Homo sapiens: one gene and its partner. The protein of the gene in region 2 purifies or fractionates together with the protein of the main gene of each other region. This does not show direct contact. Each region holds a gene or a part of one and is shown on either strand. Other genes may lie near its edges. The genes, in order: TNFRSF21 and ADCY3.

What was found.
Region 1: the proteins of ADCY3 (region 2) and TNFRSF21 fractionate together in Homo sapiens (co-fractionation; one large-scale study listed by BioGRID). This does not show direct contact.

Annotation. Positions count from the first base shown.
Region 1 is NC_000006.12:47,303,372-47,307,187, forward strand, and holds part of TNFRSF21 (tumor necrosis factor receptor superfamily member 21 precursor), read right to left. Parts: intron 1-3,816.
Region 2 is NC_000002.12:24,836,732-24,840,547, forward strand, and holds part of ADCY3 (adenylate cyclase type 3), read right to left. Parts: intron 3,301-3,816; coding exon 3,142-3,300; intron 2,182-3,141; coding exon of another isoform or gene 2,116-2,181; intron 1,892-2,115; coding exon 1,714-1,891; intron 315-1,713; coding exon 186-314; intron 1-185.

The DNA of each region.
Region 1 (3,816 bases), on a different chromosome or scaffold from region 2:
GAAGCCACAGGGCAATGTTCTGATCCCCACCCACACCCTGCTCAGTCCCACACCTGCCTGAGGTCTCTCTGAGCGCAACTTTCCCACCACTGCACACATCTGTCATCTCCAAAGCCAGGATACTGACAAGAAAATCTTCTGGTGGCCTTTAGCACCTCTCAAGAACAGTGAGATCACTACTGCTCACTGATCTCACTGAGATCACTATTGCTTACTATTGCTTTGAGTCAACAGCCTAAGTATCAGTGAACCCCACCTCTGTATAGCCCTCAGTCCTGCCTGTACTCACTGATATCTGCCAGGTTCCTCCTGGGTTATAACCTCTACCCAAGCTCCTCTCCTCTTGGATTCAGGCTAGAAATGAAGGTGGTAAGAAAGCTGGGTGGCAGCATGCAAGCCAATTTAGGATTCCCATTTTATTTTTTGGTATTTGACAAACACAAACACTGGGGCAAGGCCAGTATTTATTCATGATCTCGCCCCTATCCTAAATAATCAAAGCTCAGCAGCTGTTGCTGCTACAGCCACAAGGCCCAGCCTTCTGCTAATGCTAAATGAGGATCCAACTTTGGGAACCAAATTGATTCCTATTATGGCTCCCATTGTCATTCTGTCAAACAGACATATCTTTGCCTAATGGTCCACACTGAGTCAGCTCCAAGTGATCACTGGACACATGCCCAAAGCTCTGAGATAACCTGGGCTCTTCTTGTCACAGAAGAGAAGCACCTGAGTTTGCCAAGAAGTTGCTGGTGACCTGGCATCACCGGAATTTGCCAGGCCTGCTTGGGGAAAGAAAGCCAACAGAATATTAGTGCTTTCTGGAAAATAAGCACAAGGAAAAGTCACTCAATTCATACCAGCCCCTGAATAGTAATGATCTGATAATGCACCGGATCATTTCGTGTCACCAAAAAAAAACCAAAAAAAAAAAAAAGATGTTTATTTAAGGCAATTAGAGTTTACATGCTTTATGAAGGACCAGCTGAACACAAAATTAATTTGCAAACTGTCTATGCAGCCTCCAAAGAGGCTTCACCTCTCATCTTCGTGGATATAGTTGCCTGCAAAGTTAAAGTGTGATGTCTCCACATTCTGGTCTACAATGAAGAAAGGACAAAGACCACCTGCCAGAGCCAGCCCAGAAGCTCCCACCTATTTGTTCTGACCCAATAATAGCATACCTGGAGAAAAGGACTGTCTTCAAACTGCCCCAGAATATACAGCATTAACTGTGCTTACTATATCCTGCTTGATAGACTTTGTCTACATTTAGCCACACTAAAATATGTCATGCAGGAATTTGGTGGATATATGCCTTTTCAAGCCTCCCTTTTTTCCCTTCCCAACTTAAGGTAGTCCTTAAATCCCATTTACGAGGAATTTTTTTTATTGCTGATTTGATTTACTTGTGTAGTTTATTTACACTAGAGGTGTGTTTGTTTTGTACTGGACTTGGGGAAGATTCAAACATATGCCTTCAGAAACAGTTCAGATGACAGAGCTCAATTCCATTATACACATTTTGACTGTAATGATAACTCATGGGGTCGGTCAGGACTCCTGCATTCCAGCACAGGTTCTGCGCTCCCCATTCCTCTGATTAGAAGTTGCTTTCTCTACTGAGGCTAACGTATGTCATTCTCAGATTTGAAAGTCTTTTTTTTCTCTTATTCTCAGACTAAGAGCCAAAGTTACTTCAGGTATTTTAAAGATTTTAACATCAATCATATTTTGTGTATTAAGGTAAGTATACTACATTCATCCAGTGATTCCACATGAGCGAGTAAAACCCAACCAGCACTGGTGATGGCCATGCTCATTTTATATACCATACGAATTGTACCTTCATGGCAAGATCCAAATCCCAATTCATCCCTGGGTTCCCACTGCCCAGAATAGTGCCTCACTTAGAAAGGGTGCTCGATGCAGTTTCATTTGTAAACATGAAAAAGCAGTCACTTCCCCAGTAGAGTATTTTTTTTTCTCTCAACCAAAAAATACAGGGTGTTAAATCAGTATTTTTTATGCTCCCTTCCAGCTTTCACATTCTAGGATTGTAGAGCTAAGATATATAGGAGAGAGAAAATCTTTTGGATATAATATCAGCTCTAATTTAAAGTTCTGCTCGAATTTGCCACCAAGTCTTGACATGATTCAGAACTTCAGCCCCCACCAGACCACTCCACACCTGCCCAAACAGCCAAAGTGAATTGCCAATGTACGAGGTAATGTACTTTGATAAATGATGGTCAGGAGGTAGCACTAAGCTACATGTCTAGTTTCAGTAACAGAGAAAAACACTATTACTTGGCACTTTCTAGGCAAACGCACAGCTGGACAGGCTATAACAGCAAATAGCCCTCTATCTGGAATTCATAATGCTTGCAAAAGAGTTTTCTAAAACTTCAGACCTCATATCTTTACCAATTATGGCTCCCTTCTCTTCTGAGGGCCTCACTGCCAAAATCCTACCTATGCAGTTAAAGCGAGCTCCCCGAGGGCAAGGGGCATCTCTGACTAAGTAGTGTCACTCTGGGCAAGCCATTCTAGAGCATTCCTTATCACTGGCACAAACCTAAAGCTCTCATGGATCTTGTCTCTGCCTTACAGAGATATGATATAGCAAGGGTAAGTGTCTCAGGCAGAATAGTACAATTGGTAAAGTCAAGATGGTGGAAGGTAAGCTTAGATTCTGAAGACAAAGCACAATCATGCACACTAGACTTACTGGGTGTCGAGCAACAAGAATGTTTTGTCCACCTGAGCCCCAGACTTTTGAACCCAGCTCTTGTCTTTCAGTGTATGTTTTACTTTCTATTATCATGCAGACACTCATCAGAAATAGAAGTGCAAGCAGCAAGAATACTTCCTTCCAAAGGCATTCCTGTAATTCTCATTCACGTTCTGTAACAAACCAAACCACCTTCTTAACTTTTCCCCAGTGAGCCTTCTCTGTTGTTACATTTCATTATCAAGCAATTTGGACTTGTGAAACACGCAGTGTGGCACAGGGCTAAGGGAGGACATGAGCTGAAGAGCCAGGCAGTCCTGGGTTCTGGCCCCAGCAATATCACGTGCAAGCTGTGTGGCCTGGGACAAACCAATGAAGTTCTGGGAGCTTCCATTTTCTCAACTATAAAAAGGAGACAATATCACCTGCTTCACAAAGATGCTATGAATAAATGAGATACTGTATACAAAGCACCTGGCATGTAGCAATTGCTCTCTCTATACATATACAATTGCTATATACATGTGTATATATTATATCATATTGTGTACCTATATATTTGTATTTTTATAAGCTTATAGTAAGCTATTTTTCATGCAGTTAGCCGGTCATGACAAACAAAAAGTCATAACACAAAAATGATGACAATAAATATTATCACACAAAAAGGGAGATATTTGAAAGAAGAGCATTAAAAGACATAATAAATAGAACATTTTACTGGGATTATTACTTTTTAATCTAACTGTAATACGTGGGCAGGCCACTAACTTGCCCACCTCCCCCAGTAGTGTTCTGAGTACCCTGCCACGTGTACCCAGGCTCCAGTACCTGATGTCCGTTATGTTCACATGGCCAAGGATCCCAATGGGATAAATACTTCTTGGAACAGTATCATGAGATCATCATTTTATACATTAACAAAGCCTGTGCTGTGGACTTGGGCATGCAGAATAAGAATGTGAAAGACAAAAGGCATTTCCTCCCCACCCTGGATGGGGATTATAACATAGTCTCTACTGATTCCTGGCACACCCTCCAGTCACCCTTCAGGATGAAGGGCTGAACCTCATGCCATTTCA
Region 2 (3,816 bases):
GAGACAGTGGGGTTTTGCGGGGCTGGAGGGGTGACCTGTCCATGGTTACAGTGCTAAGCAGGAGCAGGTCCTGGGTGGTGGCCAGGTCTCCCCAGCACAGGACTCCTGCTGCAGGAACGTATTGCTTCCTGGTGCCTGCCCGCATCTGGCCCTCAGTGACCCCCTGCCCTGAGCCCTGCACATACCTGGGCATCCTGCTCCTCGGGCTTCTCCGACGTGGACCCACTGCTGTGGGCACTCCCGTTGGGCTCCTTGGTCTCAATGAGGGCAGGGGAGCTGGACTTTGAGGAAGCTGGTGCTCCATTGGGCAGGGCCTAGAGGAAAGGAGAGCTCAGCCATGATCTGGGCATGGGATGAGAGTGGCGTGGACAGGTCTGGAAGTGACAAGGGCGTGGGAGGCGGTGGGATTAGAGAGCAATCTGAGGCCACAGAACTTGCTTGTGGATTGCAAAGTGAGGCGTCAAGGATGATTTCAAACTTTTTGGTCTGAGCAGTTGTTAATAAAAGGATGGAACTGCCATTAACTGAGATGGGAAGACCGAGGGAGAGCAGGTTATGGAGTGGGAAGGAGGGCAGGAGCTTTGGGCAGGTGGCATTTAAGATACCTATTATATGTACAAATGGAGACGTACAAGTGGCTGTATGTTGAGTGCAGGGAAGACACTGGGGGTGGAGATACAAATTTGGGAGTTGTCAGAGACAGCCTTTAAAATGACACTGGATGAGACTGACATCGAGGTTAGAATCAGCGGGGAGTATCAGCCTTCACTCCGGCAGCCTCACCAGAGTGGGCTTTGCTTTAGCCATAATTAGGCAAAGCCTCAGCCATAGAGCAGTCTCAAATGACACGACTTCCCTGACAGTCACCAAGCTCCTTAATTCCAAGTCTTGTTAGATGGACTCTCATAACTGGAGGAAAGGGTTTTGACATGAGATTACAAAAAATAAGACAACCTCCAGATTCAGCAGGGGATGGTAAAGGGATCCATTTCTGCAACAGCTGCTGGTGGTTTCTAATCAGACTGACAGGAGGTGTTTGGGGGTTGGTGGACAGACCTGGGGAAGCTGCTGAGTGCTTCAGGTCTGTAGATATTCGGGGGATCCCACAAAAAGACCAGAGGGCAGGCCCACAGGATGCACGATTGCAAGCTTGTTCAACCCACAGTATTTTTTGTTTGGCCCGAGACAATTCTTCTTCTTCCAATGTGGCCCAGGGAAGCCGAAAGATTAGACACCCCTGCTCTATTACTTCTATCTCATTCCTCCCTCATTTCCCACTCAGGAAACCTTCCTGGCCTTGGTCCTCCTCCCCCATGACCAGTCACCCCACCCCCACCCTCCTCTCTGAGCCTCTCCCTGAGCATCCACGTCACTCCTGTGGCTTCACTCACTTCCTCCATGCAGGAGACCCTGAGCCCCAACCCAGCTGCTCTCCTGGGCGCCACCGACACATCTCCAGCGGCCCCCTCCTGGATGTGGTCTTGGGATATGCTTCAGTCACCTCCATTGCAACCTGCCATGAATTACACTCACCATCTCCCCCAGAAACCAGCTCTCCCTTGGGAAGGGTGCCAGCCTGCCACTCACCTCTCACAGCCAGCCACTGCTGGGTCCTGCCACCTCTTCTGCAATCTTTCCTTAATCTCCTCCTTTCCAACCCCCTAATCCAGGGGTGGGGTGGGTGGGGTGGGTGGGGTGGGGTGGGGAACTCACCGAGCCATTGAGGCCATTCTGGGTGGCTGTTTTCTTCACCTCTGGCTTGGAGGCAATGATGAGGTAGGTTTCAATACCCTTCTCTTCTAGGTAATCACAGCGGCTGCCCCCATCGCCTGGCTCCACATCAAACTCCCCTTTCAGGCAGTCCATGGTGCTCTGGGAGATGTGCACGCGCCTGGATTGCAGAGAGAGAGGCCCTGAGCGTCGGCCAGAGGTGGCCCTCACACCCCCAGGGGACAGTCCACGGACCACGGCTGCACCGGCTGCTGCTCGGCCCCGTGTCTCTCGGGCATGTGGGGCAGAGGCCAAGTGGAGGCAGTTCTGCCACTAACTAGCTGTGTGGGCCGCTAACTAGCTGTGTGGGCCGCTAACTAGCTGTGTGGGCCGTATGGCACTTACTCCCATCTCAGCCTCAGTGTTGGAGCCACGACACAGGAGTACAATCTTTCTTCAATCTTTGATCCGCTGTAAAGCAGATCAAATGCGATAAGGAATTTTTTTTTTTTTTTTTTTGAGACAGAGTCTTGTTCTGTCGCCCAGGATGGAGTGCAGTGGCTTGATCTTGGCTCAGTGCAACCTCTGCCTCCCGGGTTCAAGCAATTCTCCTGCCTCAGCCTCCAGAGTAGCTGGAATTACAGGTGCACACCACCACACCCGACTAATTCTGTATTTTTAGTAGAGATGGGGTTTCGTCATGTTGGTCAGGCTGGTCTCAAACTCTTGACCTCAGGTGATCTACCCACCTCGGCCTCCCAAAGTGCTGGGATTACAGGCGTGAGCCACAAGATCCAATTATCCCCCACCTTGCACGTTTCTCAGTTGCAACCCCTGCTGCCAAGAGATAATAAAACCTGTTTCTGAGGAGTCACCACTGAGGCCAAGAATCCTAAATGCCACTGAAGGAAGCTCCCTGGCCCAGATGGGGAAGGCTGGGCTGATCCTCCCTCAGCCTCGCCCTGCTAAAGGCAGGGCCTCCATTATCCTGTAAGGGAGCTCAAGTAAGGCGTGTAATCGCACTGCGACCTGCAAAACGCTGCCTGCGAGCCCGCTAGCTGATGACTGCTCATTACTCTCCCTTTGGGGAGACCTGGGCTCTGACATAAGGAGAGCTGGGGCAGCCCCCTTAGTGGGTAAAGGGGAGGCAGCCCCCTAAGTCGGTAAAGGGGACAGGAGGACAGGCTACTGCAGGGTCCAGGAAGGAAAAGCCACATCCAATATCAGGCCCAAAGAGGCCTCACCCCAAGGCAGGTCAGAACGGCCTTAGCCAGGGCCAGGACCAGGGCGAGACAGGAGGAATGCTGTTCCGGGGTTGTAGGGAGGCCTTCTCTGAGGCCCCCTGTCCCTCATCAGGGTCACAGCCCTGGGGGATGGAGGGGACGGTCCCCTCCCCAGTCCTCAAACCTGCCCCCTTGGAATGGCACTCACCCAGGGATGCCGCCGGCCTCCATCTTGTTGGCTACAGTGACATCAGTCGACCACACGTCGTACTGCCAGCGCTTCTGGCCCAGGACGCCCCCCAGCACGGTGCCCGTGTGCACCCCCACACGCATGTCCACCCCAGTCTTGGTCTTCTCCCGCACATACCTGCCAGGTACACACAGAAAGGAGGGTCAGGGTGTGGCCTTCACGAGGCAGCCAGCTGCCCCTGCTCCTGCAGGAGAAATTCATTGTGGGCCTCTTCCCCTCCACAAGAGGGGGCCTGGCAAGGTCCCCACAGCTTGGTGTTGGGTGGGGGGTAAGGCAGGCCAGGGCCAGCCCAGAGTCAGGCATCACAGGCCAGCAGGACGAGGGCACCAAGCGACTTTCCTCCCTATCCCCACTTCCCGAGGGGCCTCAGTTTCTCTCTGCCAATTACTCTTTTATTCATTCGTGCAGTTAATATTTCACTGAGCATCAAGTATGTGCCAGGCACGTTCAAGGTGCTGCAGACACAGAGGTGAAGAAAATAGCCGTGAACAGCCCCCTGCCTGAACGTGTCTGACAGGGCAGGGAGAGAATGTTAGAGTTCCTGGACTACCACCCCTGGGGTAAAGGCCACACTGCTTTCTTTCCAGGGCAATACTAGACGGGCTTTAACCTGGAAGATGGTAAAAATGCAAA